Regions from separate parts of the Homo sapiens genome. Here all the other regions are linked to region 1. Evidence: fine-mapped expression QTL. A gene starts in region 1. Each other region holds a variant in brackets. All regions are shown on one strand. Distances are between the middles of the regions. Region 1 holds the start of FDX1 (ferredoxin 1). Region 2 overlaps LINC02732 (long intergenic non-protein coding RNA 2732). Region 3 overlaps LINC02732 (long intergenic non-protein coding RNA 2732). Region 4 overlaps FDX1 (ferredoxin 1). Region 5 overlaps LINC02732 (long intergenic non-protein coding RNA 2732).

The links. PIP is the estimated chance that this variant, and not a neighbour inherited with it, causes the effect.
Region 2: its variant is the best candidate, but not a certain one, in a credible set for the expression of FDX1 in whole blood (TOPMed, PIP 0.56).
Region 3: its variant is the best candidate, but not a certain one, in a credible set for the expression of FDX1 in lung (TOPMed, PIP 0.80).
Region 4: its variant is the best candidate, but not a certain one, in a credible set for the expression of FDX1 in aorta (GTEx, PIP 0.60).
Region 5: its variant is the best candidate, but not a certain one, in a credible set for the expression of FDX1 in monocytes after interferon gamma (Fairfax 2014, PIP 0.82).

What each region holds. Positions count from the first base shown.
Region 1 is chr11:110,427,843-110,432,064 of GRCh38, reverse strand. FDX1 (ferredoxin 1) reads right to left here and starts at 2,117. Exons shown (of 4, transcript NM_004109.5): 1 at 1,760-2,117. The coding sequence starts at 1,944. RefSeq lists an enhancer at 1,304-1,583 and a silencer at 1,654-2,303.
Region 2 is chr11:110,388,255-110,392,476 of GRCh38, reverse strand. All of the region lies in intron 3 of LINC02732 (long intergenic non-protein coding RNA 2732), which reads right to left. Among named protein-coding and RNA genes, the nearest start is that of LINC02732, 35 kb to the right of the region's middle. The variant C/T (reference allele first, on the strand shown) is at 1,831.
Region 3 is chr11:110,400,833-110,405,054 of GRCh38, reverse strand. The region is part of intron 3 of LINC02732 (long intergenic non-protein coding RNA 2732); the gene reads right to left. Among named protein-coding and RNA genes, the nearest start is that of FDX1, 27 kb to the left of the region's middle. The variant C/T (reference allele first, on the strand shown) is at 2,113.
Region 4 is chr11:110,456,896-110,461,117 of GRCh38, reverse strand. FDX1 (ferredoxin 1) reads right to left here. Exons shown (of 4, transcript NM_004109.5): 3 at 4,071-4,200. Among named protein-coding and RNA genes, the nearest start is that of FDX1, 29 kb to the right of the region's middle. The variant T/C (reference allele first, on the strand shown) is at 1,901.
Region 5 is chr11:110,393,498-110,397,719 of GRCh38, reverse strand. All of the region lies in intron 3 of LINC02732 (long intergenic non-protein coding RNA 2732), which reads right to left. Among named protein-coding and RNA genes, the nearest start is that of FDX1, 34 kb to the left of the region's middle. The variant AT/T (reference allele first, on the strand shown) is at 1,886.

The DNA.
Region 1 (4,222 bases):
TCCAATACAGTAGCCACTAGCCACATGTGGCTACTGAGAACTCGAAATGTGGCTAGTGTAACTACGAGATTGAATCTTTAATTTTATTTACCTTTAATTATGTTAAACTTCAATAGCCACATGTGATTAGTAGTTACGGTAGTTACAGCACAAGTCTCATTAACACAGTAAGAACTGGAAAATCCAGTTGTAGCTCCAAAGTCTGTAAGAGGAATGATAAGACCATGAATAGAAATTGTGCCAATAAAGAGGGCAGCAGGATTATGAGGAAATAGACGTGCTCCCCTTTAAAACAACCTGACATATCCAAATCCAAAAAACAAATCTGAGAAAGATAACTCCCAATTACTACAAAAACATTCATGTTCCCTTATACCAGTTACACAAGCATGTTCAATATCTGTCCCAATTGATTCAGTTGTCCAAAACTCATCCATTGTATAACAGAAAGCAAGGTACCCACACTGGTCAAAGACAGGGGGGGAAGTGCAGAGGAAACAGGAACAAATAAATCTGGCTTGCCTTCTCCCTGATTTCCCCCAAAGTTCACACAACAAAAATGTATGGAGCACCCACTAGATAACGGGATTAGTGGGGAAAAGATGACTGAAAGTCTTAGACCCTGCTCTCAGAGACCTCAAAAAGAAACTAGACAAAGCAGCGTACAAATCCAACACACTCTCCCTCTAGTTCTCGATTCCTGCTACCCTACATCATGCGGTCAAAGAGCTGTCGAGAGATCTGCATTATATAAATCGCCACCATGTTGGTAAAAATTATGTGTAAATTGTATCTCTAGTATATCTAAGGAGTGTCTTTGAAAAACAAATATGCCCAAGAACCTAAAACTTCAACACATTTGGGATAAATTGTCACATTTCTTTCAATATTTAATACAAAACTCTCTTAACATTGTGAACCTAAGAAGCTGCTGCTGCTGCTGCTGCTGCTGCTGCTGCTGCTACCAAGTGGCATCTACTGAGCCCTCATTACGTGCTAGGCACAAGACTACCTGTATCGCTGTATTAACTCATTGATTCTTCAATTAACCATAGGAGGTCTACACTGTTATTATATCCAACTTGCAAATGGAGAAACTGGGTTCCTAAGGACTGACCAAGTTAGGCACGTCAGACAATCAGTGCCAAAGCCAAGTTTCAAGTCCCGGCAGATTACTTCAACGCAGGGGCTTTCAACACTTGAGCAACTAGCAAAGGGCCTACAGGGCAGCAGAGGGTATGGGCTGGGTGTATTCTACCTGGACACCCCCTGACAAAGACCTGGGACCTGGGTGTCCTCTCAAAGCAGGGCAAGGCCCTGAAAAAAACAGCTGGCAGGTGTGTCAGGCCAGGACAGCAGGAGGGAAGCCTGTCGCGAAGGTCACTGCCAGTTTCGGGCAGAGCAAAGGTCAGATCCCAGACAAATCACACGGAGAACAAGCAGCAGCAAAGTCCCGGCTTTCCTCAGGGCACGGGAAGCGCTGGGAAAGGGAGCTGGGCGTCCAGGGTCCCCGATTCCCGCCGGGAGTGGGTGATGCGGAAAGGAACTCTGCGGTGCGACGGAAGGGAGGCAGCGACGCCACCGAGCAGCGAGACGGAGCCGCGAGAGCACCCCAGAAGAGGGGGGCGAGAGGCAGGCCTCCGGGGTGTGGGCCCGGCGCGCAGAAGGCACTGGAACCAGAGACTCGGCCCAGAGAGCCAGGCGCCACCCACCGGGGACCCCGGCCCGCGCCGGCGATCGCGCCCGCACGGCGCCCTACCTGCTCCGGGCCCGCGCCGACACGCTCAGCGACCGGCTCGCCTCCGCGCTCCCGCCCGGCCCCCGGTTCCTCAGCAGGCCGCTGGATCCAGCGCGGGACCCAGCGTGGTGCAGCCACCGGCCGGCCGGGCCGCCGAGGACAGCAGAAGCGGCGCGCAGCAGCCGGGCGCCCCCAGCGGCAGCCATCGCCCGCGGTCGGGAACTGCCGGAAGCGACGCAGGCCGCGCTTTGAGGCCGCGAGAGACTCCAAAGAGGCGGGGGCGGCAGCTGCGGCGCAGACGCCCGAGGGCCGCGGCGAGGGGCGCGGGGCTGGAGTGGCGGAGAGACCCTGCTGGAAGCACCGCGCCGAGGTTCCGCGTGCCTTCCGGGTGACCTATAAAGACATTGGCAAGCAGAGCGCGGCCCCGCCCCGCCTCTCACGCCCACGCCGCCCGGTCCCATGGGGCGGGGCCAGCGCAGGGGGCCTTTACCAACCCTCCAGGTTCCGTTGTAAGCTGGATGCTTTTTTAGCGGCTGAAGTTGCCGTGCAGAAACAAAATATTTTGAAAGATAGCTGGACGTCTAGCGGAAATCGGTTAGCTAGACCACTGTGTTCTGTTCCGCATACCCCCATCCCCTAGCCGTTAAAAAAAAAACTGGGAAATTGTGTCATCTTGGAGTCAAGTTAGAGCAAAGTGAATTCTGCCCACTGTAAAACAAAAACAGTGGGAAATTTTGGAAAATCTCAGAATGCTATTATACAAAGAAATAATTATGACTATAAAATTGTAAATGAAATTAATGAATAGGCTTGGGGCTCCTGCAGAGGACAGGTAGCCATCCTAGACCTTGACTGGCAAGTAAATGCTGGCTGAGTACATGAAACCCACGAGACTGAACCGGAAACTTTGTGATGAGCTGAGATCTCTAAAAGACTTTCACAAAAAACAGAAAAGATGAACTTTAAAATACACCTTATCATGGTTCATATGTTGTGGGAAATGCATGGGCTTTAAGGTCAGAAATAGCAATGTTCAGATCCAAGATCTACTGCTTTAGAGATCTGAGACCTTGGAAAAATTATTCTCATGGAGGATCAGAGTTTCCATAACTCTCAAACACAGATAAGATGTTCCAGCCTTCAGGGCCATTCTGATGTTAATCTAATACGCAATGCACACCGTGCGTCACAAACCAGGAAGGCTACCGCTTCCTGGGCCTTCCTCCATCAGGGTACTCATAAAGAGGCTAAAGGCCAAAGTCAAGGGGATATTGCAGATATGCTAAACACAATCAGATACTTTTTTTTTCTTTTTTTGACATGGGGTCTCTCTATTCTGCCCAGGCTGTAGTGCAGTGGCGAAATCTCGGCTCACTGCAACCTCCGCCTCCCAGGTTCAAGTGATTCTCCTGCCTCAGCCTCCCGAGTAGCTAGGACTACAGGCGTGTGCCACCACACGCCACTAATTTTTGAAGATTCAGAACAAGAAAGTGTAAGCATGAGTAAAGTATCTGCGGACAATGTATGGTGCTTTCTGGAACCCAATGGCAGAGAGAAGGCAGTGGCTCCTAATTGCCTCAAATCGTTGGATGAAGAGAAAGTCTTTCAAGCTGCGAAGGGCACAGCAAACCCTGACAAGTAATCTTGAAGAGGAGGTTGTAAAAGAACAGCTAACTTTTGTTTTTAGTAAGACCAAACTTCCAAGGTCGGATGAATTAGTTGTAGGAAGAGAATTGAAAAGAAAAAAAATCGTAGATGTTCTGTCTTCTCTCAGCCCTCCTGTAGCAAATACAGTTTCAACTCCCTTAAGGCACTTGATAGCTTTCTGCTTTGTAGGGTAGTTATTCGTACACATAGAGTAGTTATTTATATAGTTCATCTTAGTGACTCCGACAGCACCAGCTACAGGGTCTTGAACATATCAAGGGTCTAATAAATATTGGTGAATAAATTGATGTTATGAAATTTCCATTAATAATCATCAGAATTCATTAAGCATGTATATGAAGATTAAAGATAGAAAAAATGTTCTCCAGGTTTTCTAAGGTGGATGAGAAGTAATGCCAAAAATTGCAAATATCAGTAGTCAGCAGAATTCCAGAATGGATTTGTAAACATGATCATGAATACAGATAAAGCAACATGGAATTACTGAGGACGTGCTTTTGCTTATCTGTTTGCTTATGTATTTCTTTGTCTATAAAACTCCCACCCCTCCATCCCTTTTTTTTTCTTTTTTTCCTTAGAGATGGGGTTTTGCCATGTTGCCCAGGCTAGTCTGGAACTCCTGAGCTCAAGCAATCTGCCCACCTCAGCCTTCCAAAGTGCCGGGACTACAGGCATGAGCCACCATGCCCAGCCCATCTTTTACTCCTTTCAAAATCCATTCATTGTTTGAAGACTTTTGTCTTATTCTGTTTATGATGCTATAACAGAATAACACACAGACTGGGTAATGTGTAAAGAACAGGAATTTATTTTCTC
Region 2 (4,222 bases), 40 kb after region 1:
ATCACACCACTGTACTCCAGCCTGGGCGACAGAGTGAGACTCTGTCAAAAAAAAAAAAAAAAAAAAAAGTTCCACCTCCCAACATCCTTACATTGCAATTAAATTTCAACATTAGTTTTGGCAGAGACAAACCACATGGAAACCATAGCAGTAGTATAGTGTAATAATTAAGGCCCTGGGTTTTAGAGTCATGCTTTGAATCCCTGCTTCATCACGTACTTGCTGCATGTCATGGGGAGAATTACCTAACCTCTCAAGCTTTAGTTTCCTCATCTGTAGACTGGGGTTATAACGGTATTACAGTACCCACCTCACATGGTTGATGTGAAGGCTAAATGAGGTAATGCACATAAAAAACTTAGCCTGAGACCTGCATTATGTGCTTTCTGAAGGCTATTATTGTTATTGTTTTTATCTCACAGATGAAAAACTGAGGTTCAGGGGAATGGTTAAGTACCTTGCCCAAGGACAAACAGTTTGCCAATAGTGACTAAAGAACTCAATCTAATTTTTTTCACTTTAAAATCTCATGCTCTTTCCATGTCTATATAATTTATAGGTTTAATGTACCTTGTTTTCTTCTAACTCATTTTAGTAGTTTTCTACTTTGACTTGCAACTCAGTCAACATGAGCTTTGTTACAGAAAAGTAAAGATGATAGCCTGATGTGTTTGGGTGAAGTAAAAGAATAAAAAACTCTCATGTATGCAATCAGATTTATTTTTTGCTGTCATCACATAATCTAACAGATTATCATAAATATTAATTATCTTGTGCATTCTGACACTGTATTCTTTGACATCTAGTTAATTGCTGGTTAGAAAAGGTTTTCCTCATATAAAAAAATTTCATTCTGATATAAATTAAATGAATATATACCATTATAAATTTTGCAAACACAATTACATATAAATAATTTATATAACATTAATATTTAATTTATATTACATTTTTTTCTTTTCTTTTCTTTTGTGAGAGTAGTGTTGCTCTGTCGCCCAGGCTGGAGTGCACTGGCACCATCTCAGCCTCTAAAGTAGCTGGGACTACAGGCATGCACCCCCACCCCCAGCTAATTTTTGTATTTTTAGTAGAGACAGGGTTTCACCACGTTGGCCAGGCCAGTCTTGAACTCCTGACATCAAGGGATCCCACCTCAACCTCCCGAAGTGCTGGGATTACAGGTGTGAGCCACCACGCCTGGCCTGTATTTCTGGATTTGATCTGCCAGTATTTGACAGGGGATTTCTGTATCTGTGGTAAGAAGGGATTTTATTTACATCGTTTTCTCTTTTAATTTCTCTCTCAGGTTTGGTATCAGGCTTATACTAACCTCATAAAATGTTTTGGGAAGTGTTCACCCCTCTACTTTCTCAAAGAGTTAGTATAATATTAGTATTACGGATCTTTAAATGTTCAATAGACTTAACTAGCAAAATCACACGGTCCCGGAGTTTTCTTCATGGGAAAATTATTTGTAATAAAGTCAATGATGTGTGTATGTGTGTATTTTTCAGGGAACTGGTCAAACTTATCAAACCTTTTAAGCATTTGTAGGATTCTATAGTGATATCCTCTCTTTTATTCTTCATGTTGGTAATATGGCCCACAAATATAGAAATAGAATGTATAGAACTTAGTTTCTAATAGCATTTCCCAATTAAAAAAAAAAGGAGGGATCCTTGGAGAAATGGTTAATTCTACGACTAGAGCAGAAAATATACAAAATCAGCCTGGAGCATTTTGTAGCACCAGAATGTAAAGAACTGCTCAGAAACAGACATATGCAACAATTGGGGCATGTCAAAGGGACACAGGAACCAACTGGGACAG[C/T]TCCCAGTGGCCAAAGAAAACAATTTCAGCAACAAAAATTAAAATGGATTATAACCCAAAGTATAAAATAAGTATCCAATACTGATATAAATAAATGACTGAATAAATAAACAGTGAGAAATAGACAACTCTTTCCTGCAGAAAAATTCCAAATCATTTTATGTAGATACTCTGCCCTCAAAAAGTGAAGATTAAGTCCCCATTCTAAGTGAAAGTTGTGCATAAGAGTACAGAATGGAAAGGGGGAGAAAAGATTACTTTACACTGGAAAGACCTGACAAACACTACGTCATCCAACTGATCAAAGTCAACATCAACACAATAAGTCATGTTGACGGTGTGTAGCATTGATATGATGTTATGAGACTGTCACATCACCCCTGTGGTCTTCCTCCCAAAACCCGTAACCCAAGACTAACCATGAGAAAAACATCAAAGAAACCCCAGTTGAGCAACATTCTACAAAATACTTGACCAGGACTCTTCGAAATTGCCAAGGTCATCAAAACCAAGAAATTTCTGAGAAACTGTCACAGCCAAAAGGAACCTGAAGAGACATGATGACTAAATGTAATGTGGTATCCAGGATGAAATCCTGGGACAGCAAAAAGACATTAGGCCCTAAGGAAATGTAACTAGGGAAATCTGAATAAGGTATGAACTTTGGTTAACAACAAAAAAGAAATTTAAGAAAAGTGAAGGAAGGAAGAAAGGGAGGTTGAAAGGGAGTGAGAAAGCTGAACCAGGAAATAGAACCCACTTTTGCAATGGTCAGTTGACCTTCAACACAGCATCCAAAGTAATTTAATGAAGAAAGGACAGTGTCTTCTGCAAGTGGGGATGGAATAAAGGGATACCATTTTCAAAGGAAAAAATTAACCTTGATCCTTTCTTCAAATGATACATAATATTGACTCAAATGGATCACATATCTGAACAAAAAAGCTGAACAATAAACCGTTTATAACAAAGCACAGAAAAACATTTTCATGACTGTGAAGTAGACAAAGATTTTCTAGAAAGAACACAAAAACATAAATCATAAAAGAAAAAAATTGCCTCAAAAAAAAGAAAAAAGAAAAGAAAAGAAAAAAATCGGCTGGGGCTAGGTGCTGTGTGGCTCACGCTTGTAATTCCAGCACTGTGGGAGGCTGAGGCAGGTGGATCACCTGAGGTCAGGAGTTCAAGACCAGCCTGACCAACATGATGAAACCCGGTCTCTACTAAAATACAAAAATTAGCCAAGTGTGGTGATGTGCACCTCGGGAGGTTCCCATCTACTCAGGAGGCTGAGGCATGAGAATCACTTGAACCCAAGAGGTGGAGGTTGCAGTGAGCCAAGTTCATAACACTGCACCCCAGCCTGGGTGACAAAAGCAAAACTCTGTCTCAAACAAAAAAAAAAATTGGCTGGGCTTAGTGGTTCATGCCTGTAATCCCAGAACTTTGGGAGGCCGAGGCAGGCAGATAGATCACTTGAGGTCAGGAGTTTGAGACCAGCCTGGCTAATATGACGAAATCCCAACTCTACTAAAAATACAAAAATTAGCTGGGCATGGTGGCACACACCTGTAATCCCAGGTACTCGAGAGGCTGAGGCAGGAGAATCGCTTGAACCCTGGAGGCGGAGGTTGCAGTGAGCCGAGATCATGTCACTGCACTTCAACCTGGGTGACAGAGTGAGAATCTGTCTCAAAAACATAAAAGAAAAGAAAAAAATTGGTACCTGAAATAGGGGGGCAGTTCAAAGATGGCTGAATAGGAACAGCTCCAGTCTATAGCTCCCAGCATGAGCGACGCAGAAGGCGGGTGATTTCTGCACTTCCAACTGAGGTACCAGGTTCATCTCACTGGGGATTGTTGGACAGTGGGTGCAGGACAGTGGGTGCAGTGCACTGACCATGAGCCGAAGCAGGGCGAGGCATCGCCTCACCTGGGAAGTGCAAGGGGTGAGGGAATTCTCTTTCATAGCCAAGGGAAGGGGTGACAAATGGCACCTGGAAAATTGGGTCACTCCCACCCTAATACTGCACTTTTCCAATGGTCTTAGCAAACAGCACACCAGGATATTATATCCTGCGCATGGCTCGGAGGGTCCTACGCCCACAGAGCCTCGCTCATTGCCAGCACACCAGTCTGAGATCAAACTGCAACACCACAGCGAGACTGGGGGAGGGGAGCTCACCATTGCTGAGGCTTGAGTAGGTAAACAAAGCGGCCAGGAAGCTCGAACTGGGTGGAGCCCACCGCAGCTCAAGGAGGCCTGCCTGCCTCTGTAGACTCCACCTATGGGGGCAGGGCATAGCAGAACAAAAGGCAGTAGAAACCTCTGCAGACTTAAAAGTCCCTGTCGGACAGCTTGGAAGAGAGTAGTGGTTCTCCCAGCACAGAG
Region 3 (4,222 bases), 27 kb after region 1:
ATGTATGGGCTTTTCATTGCTTGTGTAATAGGTGACGTTGGAAATGTAAGAACACAAAAGTTGGATTGCATGTCCTGTTAGTATATTCTTGGTCCTATCAGAGATGGGGAAGTTGGCTAATGATTGCATATTTAGAAGTTGGAAAGGGTCTTTTCCTTCATAACAAGGGTGGTAGGTTAAGTTGGTAAAGACCCATTTTTTTGCGGGAATGGGAGGTTCCACCTGGCAGCAATTTTGGCCTCAGCATCTGCCTGACGGTTTCCTTCTGCCTTTTGTCCTTCACTTTTCTGATGGCTTTGGCAGTGTAAGACTGCCACTTCCTTGGGTTTTTGCACTGCATTCAATAACTCCATAATTTCCTTGTGGTATTTAATGAGGGTTCCCCCAGAGGTTAGGAACTCCCTTTCTTTCCATATTGCAGCATGGGCATGTAGGATTAGATAAGCATACTTGCTAACTGTACACACATTTATTCTTCTTCCTTTTCCCAGTTCTAAGGCTCAGGTAAGTGCCACTAGTTCTGCTAACTGGGAGCTGGTCCCTGGGGGAAGAGGCTTACTTTCAAGTACCGTTACTAACTATGGCATAACCTGCCCTTCATATCCCATTCTTCACAAATGAACTTCCATTGGTATATAGGTTAAGGTCAGAACTAACTAAGGGGACTTCTAAGAGATCATCTCGGGTGGCATAAGTCTGGACTATAATTTGTTGGTGGTCATGCTCAATTGGTTCCCTATCCTCTGGGAGAAAAGTGGCAGGGTTGAGGGCCACACACGTACGTATTTGAAGCACCGGTCCCTCAAGGAGTAGCACTTGGTATCTAAGTAGGCAGTTGTCTGATAGCCATAAACTTCCTTTGGCACCTAGTATGCCATTTACATCATGAATGGTCCAGACAGTGAGATCCTTTCCTTGTATTATTTTTATAGCCTCTGACACTGAGATGGCCACTGCCACAACTACACATAAACAGTGAGGCCAGCCTTTTGCTACTACATCAATTTCCTTACTTAGGTATGCCACTGGTTGTGGGGATGTCCCATGAGTCTGAGTAAAGACTGCAAGAGCTATCCCAGCTCCTCTGTTACGTATAAAGAGAAGTTTTGTCCTGTGGAAGGCTTAAAGCTGGAGCTTGTACTAGTGCCTGCTTTAAGGTTTTGAAGGCTGTTCCTGCCCCTGGTTCCCATTCTACTAGATGAGTATTTGCCCTCTGGGTCTCCTTGATTAGAGTATAGAGGGGCCTGGATATCTCACTGTATCCAGGGATGCATAGTCAGCAAAATCGGTGATTCCAAGGAACCCCCGCAACTGTTTTAATGTCTTAGGGCAAGGATAAGCCAGTATAGGCTGTATTCATTCCTTGCTGAGGGCCCTGGTTCCTCTGGCTAAGATTAGGCCTAGATATTTGACCTGCTGTAGGCAAAGCTGGGCCTTCGACCTAGATGCCTCGTACCCTTGATTTGCTAGAAAGCTCAAGAAATCTAGAGTAGCCTGCTGGCATGAGGCTTCTGAACTGGTAGCCAAAAGTAAATCATCCACATACTGAAGGACCAGAGTGCCTGGACTTGAGAAGTGGCCTAGATCTTGAGCCAGTGCCTGACCAAAGAGATGAGGGCTATCCCTAAACCCTTGGGGCAAGATGGTCCACGTAAGTTGGGATGTGTGGTCTGTGAGATCCTCAAAGGCAAAGAGAAACTGGGAGTCAGAGTGCAGGGGAATACAGAAGAAGGCATCCTTGAGGTCCAGAGCAGTGAACCATTTTGCTTCCTCTGGTATTTGAGAGAGCAGGGTATAGGGGTTGGGTACAACTGGATATAGAGGAATTACTGCCTCACTGATGAGTCTAAAATCTTGCACTAGTCTCCACTGATCATTTGGTTTTTGTACTCATAGAATTGGGGTGTTGCAGGGACTGCTGTATTTCCTTACTAAGCCTTGAGCTTTTAAATGTTTAACAATATCCTGTAATCCTTTATGAACTTCAGGCCTTAAGGGATATTGTCTTTGATAAGGAAAAGTGGTGGGATCTTTTAGCCTGATTTGGACTGGGTGGGCATTTTTTTGCCCTTCCACATTGTCCTTCCAATGCCCAGACTTCAGGGTTGAGAC[C/T]CTCCTCAAGTAGGGGACAACGAATGGGTAACTTGTTCCCCATATTCATGTAGATAATAGCTCCAGCTTTGGCTAACATATCCCTCCCTAATAAGGGTGTGGAACTTTCAGGCATAACAAGAAAGGCATGTGAAAAGAGCAAAGTCTCCCAATTACAACAGAGGAGGTGGGAGAAATACCTGGTTACAGGCTGTCCCAGGATTCCTCAGATGGTAATGGACCTTGAGGACAGTCATCCAGGATAGGAGATTAACACTGAGAAGGCCACACCAGTGTCCAGGAGGAAGTCAATTTCCTGGTCCTCAATGGTTAAACATAGCCGGGGCTCAGTGAGGGTGATGACAAGAGCTGGTGCTTACCCTGGGCACCATAAGTTCTGTTGTTGGATCATCTGGTTGGGAGCTTCTGGCCCAGAGAACCATCGTACTCTGGGGCAGTGTGCCTTCCAGTGATTGCCTCGGCAGAGTGGACATGGATGCGGAGGTGGCTTGTTTCTCATTGGACAATCTTTTTTAAAGTGTCCTTGTAAACCACACTGATAACAAGCCCTACCAGGTGATTGGCCTGCTCCATTTTCTGTCCTCTCTGAACCACCAAGGTTTGTTTGTCTGAGGGTCATGACTAAGGCTGTGGCCTTTCTCTGATCTCACTTTTCCTTTTGGGCCTGTTCTTCTTGGCCCCTATTATAGAACACTGAAGTTGCCAGGTTTAATAATGCCTCCAGATTTTGTTCAGGGCCCAGGGCTCGCTTTTGGAGCTTTCTTCTGATTTCTGCAGCTGATTGGGTAATAAGCTTATCTTTTAGAATCAATTGACCCTCTAGTGAGTCAGGTGACAGGGAAGTATATTTTCTTAAGGCCTCCCGTAGCCAATCGAGGAAGGCAGAAGGATTTTCTTCCTTTCCCTGAGTCATGGTGGACATCATTGAATAATTCATGGGCTTTTTCCTAATTATCCTTAGTCCTTCTAGAACACAGGTCAACAGATGTTTATGACTCCAGTCCCCATGATCTGAGTCAAGGTCCCAGTGGGGATCCATACTGGGGATGGCTTGCTGACCAGTAGGGAATTTGTCCCTTTCTTTGGCTGTCAGTCTATCATTTACTTGACTAAGATACCAGGTATCTCCAAACTCTTGGGCTGCAGCTAAAGCCACATTCTTTTCAGTAAAGGCCAGGGTTTGATCTAACAATAGCATGACATCTCTCCAATGAGATCGAAGGTTTGCCCTAGACCCTGTAGGACATCTATGTGCATATCATGATCATCTGAAAACTTCCCCAGGTCTGCCTTGATCTGCTTTAAATCAGAGAGGGAGAAGGGGACGTGTACCTGGGTTGGGCCAAATTCCCCTCCCCCTACAGCTTGAAGGGGACATAACCAATAGCCCGGGGGTTTTTGTGATCTTCTGGAGATTTCTTTGCTTATTTCCTTCTGAGCAGGGGAGATTAGAGGAGGCTTATCATTAATAGGAAAGGGAGCTATAGGGAGGCTAGGATATGGGGTAAGCCGAGAGGTCCTCCTGTGGGATGTAAATTGCAAGCTTTGCCTAGTTGTGTATTCTCCTTCAATGAAAAGAAAGCTTGGACATAAGGTATTTCACTCCATTTGCCTTCCCTCTTACAGAAAAGGTCAAGCTGCATGATAGTATTGTAATTTATACTTCCCTCAGGTGACCATTTTTCCCCATCAGAGAGAGAATATTGGGGCCAGGCTGTAGTGCAGGAAAAAAAATGAGCCACCTCTTTTTCAGGGTTTGCAGATCAAATTGGTCCCAATGGCTTAGGATGCATTTCAAGGGTGAGCCTGTTGATGTCTGAGTGTTTCCCATCTGAAAGACAAAACCACCCACCGTTTTGGTTTGTTTGTTTCTCCCCCTGCCCAAGAACCTGTGATGGTCCCTGGACCCTGCTGATCGGAATAGTTGCACTCACCAACACAGCAACAGAAACACTAGTTTTCCTCCTACACCACAAGGAGGACTGAGGAAGGTCAGAGTTAGTGGCCCTTACTGATGCATTCTCAAAAAGCTGGACCCTTGCCTGTCCTCCTAGACCCCAAAGAGGACCAAGAAAAATCGGATTTAGTGGCCCTTACTGACACATTCTCA
Region 4 (4,222 bases), 29 kb before region 1:
CTGTGCCATATTTGAATTAGCAGTGCTTTTATCTTCCTTAGTGGCATATAAAAAGAAATGTTAATCTTACAATTGACATGTCTTCAATTTGATGAAATCTGATATTCAGGTCTTGGTTTTATTAATGTACTCATGAAGCATTTATTGAGCACCTAAAGGCACAACACTAAATGTCAATGAGGAAGAGCAAATCAACTCCACACTTTCTTACTGAACACTTCTTATTTTCTGGGCATTGGGATGCACTAAAGAGACAGCATCAGAGTTACAGCCAAAGAGACCAGCAGTGCAGAATCCAGCACTTAATATACCATGTTCACAGGCAACTTGCTTAACCTCACCAAATGGTAGTTTCCTAACCTAATCTTCAAGATGAGCAGGAGAATTCCTCACAGGACTGCTGTGAGGATTGGTTGCTAATGCCAGCATTAATGAGTAAACTTTCAATCAAAGGGATGAGATGAGACACATTCAGATAGTTAACATGTGAGACTGTGGCAAATGCCACCGAGGGAGAAAGCCAAATGGCTCTGAGAGGTCTAAGAAGAAAGCCCTTACTTCTGGCCACAGAAGGTGTTGTCCACAATGGGCTTTGGAGGATAGGTAGGATTTACTATTTAGTACAAGATAAAGGAGAAAAGTATGTGAGGCAAAGGCAACACAATGCAAAGAAGCTCAAGTCACATTTAAAGCAAGATGGGTGTTTTAGCTTGGTTGCTGCACAGCGTAAACAAGGACAAGGGGAATGATGGGCCAGAAAAGCGGCCAGAGCCACAGGCAGCTGTGAATATCAGTTAAGGGGCCTGTGTTTCACTGGTGAGCAAGGAGGAACCACCAGGAAGTTTTGGAGTAAAGGAGTGTGCTTAACCATGAGAAATACTGATTACTAATAGAAAAAAAATCCCCTCTATCAAGAGTTCTTTATTTGTAGAATTGGAAACAGCCTTCACAATACTCAATTATGCATTAAGCTCTGTCTGCAAGAGAGAAAAAGTGGCAAGCCAATTTGGACAAATTCGTTAAGACAGCAGTGAGCTCTAGAGAGTCTGTTGGTTACTCTTGGTATTCATACACAGATAGCAAGATGATGCTGGTCTTCAAGGAACGGTTACTTTAGTAAGGGAAACAGAGATGGAAACAGTTATCAGTGAAACATGGCAGGGTACCACAAGTGTGGTGATAGAAGAACAATAAATCTGTTATGGGAACACAGAAAGAGACGGAACAAAAAGCTCCTGCTCAGTCTAGAGAATAAGGCAGTGGCGCTCTGTGGCTAGTTTCTCACTCTCCTACTTCTTCTACCTCCTTAAAGATCTCTGGCTCCAAGATCCACCAGTATAGATGGTGTCTCATACTTCTAGAGAAGGAGACAAACAACAAGGCTCCCCTGATTTCACACTTTGAGTCCCACAACATTTTGACACTTCTGCAAACCTGGAAGGTATTTTCTCCAGTTACTCTTGCCACATATCCCTGATGGTGAAAATATACTGGGTATTAGGTTTACTTTAGTTCTAGGGTTTGGTTTTCAACTCAGAGAAGCAGCTTGAAATAGTAAAAGACTAAAGGCTTTGGGGCCCAACACAGCTGGATTTAAATCAGGGGTGTTACCCACTAGCTGTGCAGCCTTAAGCAAATCCGTGATAACTAAACCTTGTTTCCCCACCTACAACATGGTGATAGTACTGCCTAACCCTGAAGGTTAGAAATAATACTTAAGTGCCTAGGCATTACAGTAAGTTCCCAATAGATAAGTCGATATGATGGTAGTTACAATGCTAACAACTACCATTTAATGAATGCTTTCTCCACCAAGCACTGTTCTGAGAGCTTCACATATATTTCCTCATTAACTCCACACAGCAATACTGTGAGGTAGGTACTATTATTATCCTCACCT[T/C]ACATATAAGGAATCTGAGGCCTCTGTGTAGATTACCCATGCAAACTGGTGGCAGGGAGCAATTACAATCATCCAATGTAAACTCACAGGTAATTCCTGAATCTCCCTTTCCATCAACTATTAATTCCGCAAGCAGTTGGTGACCTCTACTGTGAATCTGGCATTAGAGATACAATGGTAAAATAAGACATGGCTGCTCCTTTAATGGGAAAAGGGAGATAGGTAACCAGTATGAAAAAAACAATGAGGCTGTCCATGTATCATCCATCCATCCATCAACAATCAAGGTTAAGGACAACCAATAAAACATTGAAGCCAGGCACGGTGGCTCACGCCTGTAATCCCAGCACTTTGGGAGGCCAAGGTGGGCAGATCATGAGGTCAGGAGTTCGAGACAGCCTGGCCAACATGGTGAAACCCCGTCTCTACTCAAAATACAAAAATTAGCGGGGCATGGTGGCAGGCACCTGTAATCCCAGCTACTCGGGAGGCTGAGGCAGGATAATTGCTTGAACCCGGGAGGCAGAGGTTGCAGTGAGCCAAGATCATGTCACTGCACTCCAGCAAGGGTGACAAAGCAAGACTCTGCCTCAAAAAAAAAAAGAAACGATGGTGTTTTTGCTTAAAAATTAAAAACATTTACATAGTATTTAAAGTAAGTATATGAACTAAAAGGCTGAATTTCCTTATTTCTTTTTCTGAAACTTTCTGATACCCTAAAAATAAGTTTACATGTGGTTACTAGCTTTGAGCAAAATTCTTTCCATTCCAAATATGTCAATGTGTTTTGTAAATGCTACCTGTGAAACCCATTATACTCTTTCCCACAAAGTATTTCTACTAAAATGCTGTGTACTTAAGAATACCAGCTATAAAACACCATAAAAGCTATTCCTTGCTCTCTATTGTGTAGCTGTAAAACTTGGAAATTTTATCATCAATACTCTTGCTAGCTTACATTTATTATAGACCTTTTGTATCTAACTGTAGCTCTCCCTTTTCCCTTTCTTTTCAATTAGAATATTATCTATTACAGGCATCTACAAATTGTAACTGTATAAAAGAGCAAGCAGTTAGCTATGATTTAACTCTCTTATTAAGAGACACAATTCTCAGAACCAAACTAATACAGTCATTGGATTTAGTTTCTGTGTTAAGGGGAAGAAAGGAGGTGCTCATAGAGAACACGGCACTGAAGATGTGAGAGGACAGGCAGACAGTAGCCACAATCCACTCTGCTTTGGTGTCCAAAGAGATACTATTTCACCAGTTTCTCTTCCCAGGGTTATCAGTCTCACATCCACCAAGAGGGAAATGAACTATAAAAGGAACAAAATGATTCTTCTTCTCTAAATAAATACAAATGACCTGAAAATGTTTGTGAGGATTAAATGAGGTAGTTTATATTAAAAGTGTATAACAAAATTGTAGCTATATAATACACATGAAATAAAACTATTATTACTATCTTTAATTTTTAAAAAATTATTTGTCATTAAGGTCACCAAACTAGAGTTAAACAAAGCCAACCTTAATTAAGTAATATGCCCTCATTATCTTACCCCTTGAAATAGTATATCAGCTAGCTACCTTCATTGACTCCAATCAAAAGACTAGATAATTTTTTTAAAAAATAAGATATCACTTGATGTCACTTGCTACTGTAAATCTCACCACTTTTAAGAGTAACTATTAATTAATAACAAGAATAAGCTCTGATTACTTTAAGGTACACTTAGAAAAAGAGCTATTCATTTTAACATAATTACTATTATATATTAAGTTTCTTTAAAAATTCTGTTCTAATAGGTGAAACTTTCCATTATAATTGTGTTCAATTATCAAATATAAAAGCATTAGATTTAACCCCTCCATTCAGTTGTGATACATATTAGTTCCTGGAGTAAAAAGAGACTAAAGAAGAGGTGTTAGGATCTAGAACTTATACTTCCAATTAATTTTTTTTACTTTTGTAAAATTTCATAAGGTCTAAACTGTAGAACAGTGAAAACAAAGAGAAATGCCACATATCTGATACTCAAAATCTGTGACTGTTATTTAACCTGGTAGAACACTATTACATTTATGGGTCTGGTCTTACATAGACAACATAATACAACATCTATGTTCCCAGATTATTATTACAATTGAAGCAGTCCAAAAATCTTACCTGTCTGTTAGTCCATATGCCAGATCGAGCATGTCATTCTCCTCATCAGTGATTGCATCTAACTTCTCATATATGTGATCTTCAAAGATGAGGTGACAGGTTGAACAAGCCAGGGTTCCCTCACATGCACCTGACAAAAGCAACAAACACTG
Region 5 (4,222 bases), 34 kb after region 1:
CTGAGCTATAAAATCAACATATGGTTCTCTTGGTCCGTTTTATAGCACTAAAGGAAGGGTAATGTTCTCCACCTATAGTGATTTTTTCCCAAGCTCTAATGCACACTCCTCTAAGCTGTTCTATGGCATCATCCTGCATGACCAGTTGCGCATCTAAACCAGCCCAGCCGCCAACCCCCAAAAGTTGGTCTACAGTTACATTAATTTGATGTTGGGCCTGGGCATTGCAAGCAGCCTGAATGGAAGCTTCATCTGCCCACCAAGTTTTAAATTGTAAGAACTGACCAGGAGTTAGACAAGCTTGAGTAACAGCATCCCAGTCAGTAGGAATCATCCAACTGGAAACAGCAACATTCTTTAACGGTCCCATTACAAAAGGAGAACCTGGTCCATACTGATTTATAGCTTGTTTAAATTCTTTGAGTAATTTAAAAGGAAAATGCTCAAATGTAGCTATAATACTTCCCCGTTGATCTGGGAGTTGTAGTCTAACAGGGAACTGCCAAGCCTCTAAATCACCCTCTCATCTAGCTTGCTGAATTCCTGCCTGAATAGAACTAAGAGCGGTCACTCAAGGTGCTGCTTGAACAGTCACTGGGACAACTACTTTTTGCCCGGTGTCCTCTGGAAAAGAAAGATCTGGAGGGTCTTTTTCTTCAAAATAATAATGAGGGGGTGCAGAAGGGTAGGGATGAATCTCTCCTTCCTTTGCCACTTTAGCTTTATATGGTTAATAAACATGCTCTGTAACCTCTTCTGTTACTTCACTATACTCTTGTTCCTCCTCATTATCAGTGTGAAAAGTTCCAAGGGGAAATGAACCAGACCCCACACCTGTTCCATTGTTACCCTGATGCTTCCGAGCTCCCCTTCTTACCATGGGGATTGCTTTAAGAGTACTCGGGTGTCCTCCAGCTAGTTTTCCCTTCCAACCATTGCTCCGGTGACCCTTCGACCTGGATTTGAGCCCCCACAAATGGACGCCACTTGCTGAGACCAGCTCGGTCAGGGAGACCCTAACCCAGAGGCACTAGAGGAATTAAAGACACACACACAGAAATATAGAGGTGTGAAGTGGGAAATCAGGGGTCTCACAGCCTTCAGAGCTGAGAGCCCCAAACAGAGATTTACCCACATATTTATTAACAGCAAACCAGTCATTAGCATTGTTTCTATAGATACTAAATTAACTAAAAGTATCCCTTATGGAAAACGAAGGGATGGGCCAAATTAAAGAAATAGGTTGGGCTAGTTAACTGCAGTAGGAGCATGTCCTTAAGGCACAGATTGCTCATGCTATTGTTTGTGACTTAAGAATGCCTTTAAGTGGTTTTCCGCCCTGAGTGGGCCAGGTGTTGCTTACCCTCATTCCCGTAAACCCAGAACCTCCCAGCTTGGGCGTTAGGGCCATTATGAACATGTTACAGTGCTGCAGAGATTTTGTTTATGGCCATTTTTGGGGCCAGTTTATGGCCAGATCTTGGGGGGCCTGCTCCCAACATGTGTGATGTGTCATATGAACAGAATGAAAAAAAAAATCTCATGATCATTTCAATTGATGCAGAAAACCATTTGATAAAATTCAACATCCCAGCCAGGTGCAGTGGCTGATACCTGTAATCCCAGTACTTTGGGAGGCCAAGGTGGGCAGATCACGAGGTCAGGAGTTCGAGACCAGCCTGGTCAACATGGTGAAACTCTGTCTCTACTAAAAATACAAAAATTAGCTGGGTGTGGTGGCAGGCACCTGTAATCCCAGCTACTCAGGAGGCTGAGGCAGGAGAATTGCTTGAACCTAGGAGGTGGAGGTTGCAGTGAGCCGAGATCACGACACTGCACTCCAGCCTGGGTGACAGACTGAGACTCCATCTTGGAAAAAAAAAAA[AT/T]CAACATCCCTTTGTCATAAAAACCCTCAAAAAACTGGGTATAGAAGGAACATACCTCAACATAACAAAAGCCATATACCACAGACACACAGCTAGTATCATACTAAATGAGGAAAAACTGAAAGCCTTTCCCCTAAGATCTGGAACATGACAAGGATGGCCACTTTCACCACTGTTATTCAACATAGTACTGGAAGTCCTAGCTAAAGCAATCAGACAAGAGAAAGAAATAAAGGGCATTCAAATTGGAATGGAAGAAGTCAAATTATCCTTGTTTGCAGATGATATGATCTTATAGTTGGAAAAACCTAAAGATTCTACAAGAAAACTATTAGAACTGATAAATTCAGTAAAGCTGCAGGATACAAAAACAACATAGAAAAATCAGTAGCATTTCTATATGCCAACAGTGAGCAATCTGAAAAAGAAATTAAAAAGTAATCCCATTTATAACAGCTACAAATAAAATTAAATGCCTAGGAATTAACTTAATGAAAGGAGTGAAAAATCTCTGTAATGAGAACTATAAAACACTGATGAAAGAAATTGAAGAGGACAACAAAAAATGAAAAAGTAGTTCATGTTCATGGATTGGAAGAATCAATATGGTTAAAATGTCCATACCACCCAAAGCAATCTACAGATTCAGTGCAATCCCTATCAAAATACCACTTACATTCTTCACAGAAATAGATAAAAACTATTTTAAAATTTGTATGGAACCACAAAAGACCCAGAATAGCCAAACCTATCCTAAGCAAAAATAACAAAACTGGATGAATCACATTATCTGACTTCAAATTATACTACAGAACTATGGTAACCAAAACAGCATGACACTGGCATAAAGACAGACACATAGACCAATGGAACAATAGAAAACCCAGAAACAAATCCACACACTTACAGTGAGCTCATTTTTGATAAAGGTCTAAGAACATACACTGGGAAAAAGAATCTCTTCAATAAATGGTGCTGGGAATACTGGATATCCATATGCAGAAGAATAAAACTAGATCCCTATCTCTCACCATATAAAAAATTAAATCAGGCTGAGTGCAGTGGCTCATGCCTGTAATCCCAGCACTTTGGGAGGCTGAGGTGAGCAGATTACCTGAGGTCAGGAGTTTGAGACCAACCTGTCCAACATGGTGAAACCCCATCTCTACTAAAAATATTTTATAAAATTAGCTGGGCACCTGTAATCTCAGCTACTCAGGAGGCTGAGGCAGGAGAATCGCTTGAACCCGGGAGGTGGAGATTGAGATCACATCACTGCACTCCAGCCTGGGCGATGGAGTGAGACTCTGTCTCAACAAAAAAAAAAAAGAAAAAAAAAACAACTCAAAATTGATTAAAGACTTAAGTCCAAGACCCCAAACCATGAAACTACTAGAGGAAAACATTAGGGAAAATCTCCAGGACATTAGTCTGGGCAAAAATTTTTTGAACAATACCCCCACAAGCACAGGCAACCAAAGCAAAAATGGACAACTGGGATCACTTCGAGGTTAAAAACTTCTTTACAGAAAAGGAAACAATCAACAAAGTAAAGAGGCAACCCACAGAATGGGAGAGAATATTTGCAACATATTCATCTCACAAAGAATTAACAACAAGAATATATAAGGAGCTCGAACAACTCTGTAGGAAAAAAAATCTAATCATCCAATCAAAAAATGAGCAAAAGACTTGAATAGACACCTCTCTAAAGAAGACATACAAATGATAAACAGACATATGAAAAGGTGCTCAACATCATTGATCATCAGATAAATGCAAATCAAAACTACAATCAGATATCTATCATCTCGCCCCAGTTAAAATGGCTTATATCCAAAAAACAGATAACAACAAAGGCTGGCAAGGATGTGGAGAAAAGGGAACCCTCATACACTGTTGATGGGAATGTAAATTAGTACAACCTATATGGAGAATAGTTTGGAAGTTCCTCAAGAAAACGAAAAATAGAGCTACCATATGATCCAGCAGTCGCATTGTTGGGTATACAGTCACAAAAAAAGGAAACCAGTATATTAAAGAGATATTTGAACTCCTATGTTTGTTGCAGCACTGTTCATAATAGCTAAGATTTGTTTTCTTCTTTTTTTTTTCCTTTTTGAGACAGAGTCTCGCTCTGTCACCCAAGTTGGAGTGCATTGGCACAATCTCAGCTCACTGCAATCTCCACCTCCCGGGTTCAAGAGATTCTGCTGCCTCAGCCTCCCTAGTAGCTGGAATTACAGGTGTGCATCACCATGCCAGGATAATTTTTGTATTTTTAGTAAAGACGGGGCTTCACCATGTTGTCCAGGCTAGTCTCGAACTCCTGACCT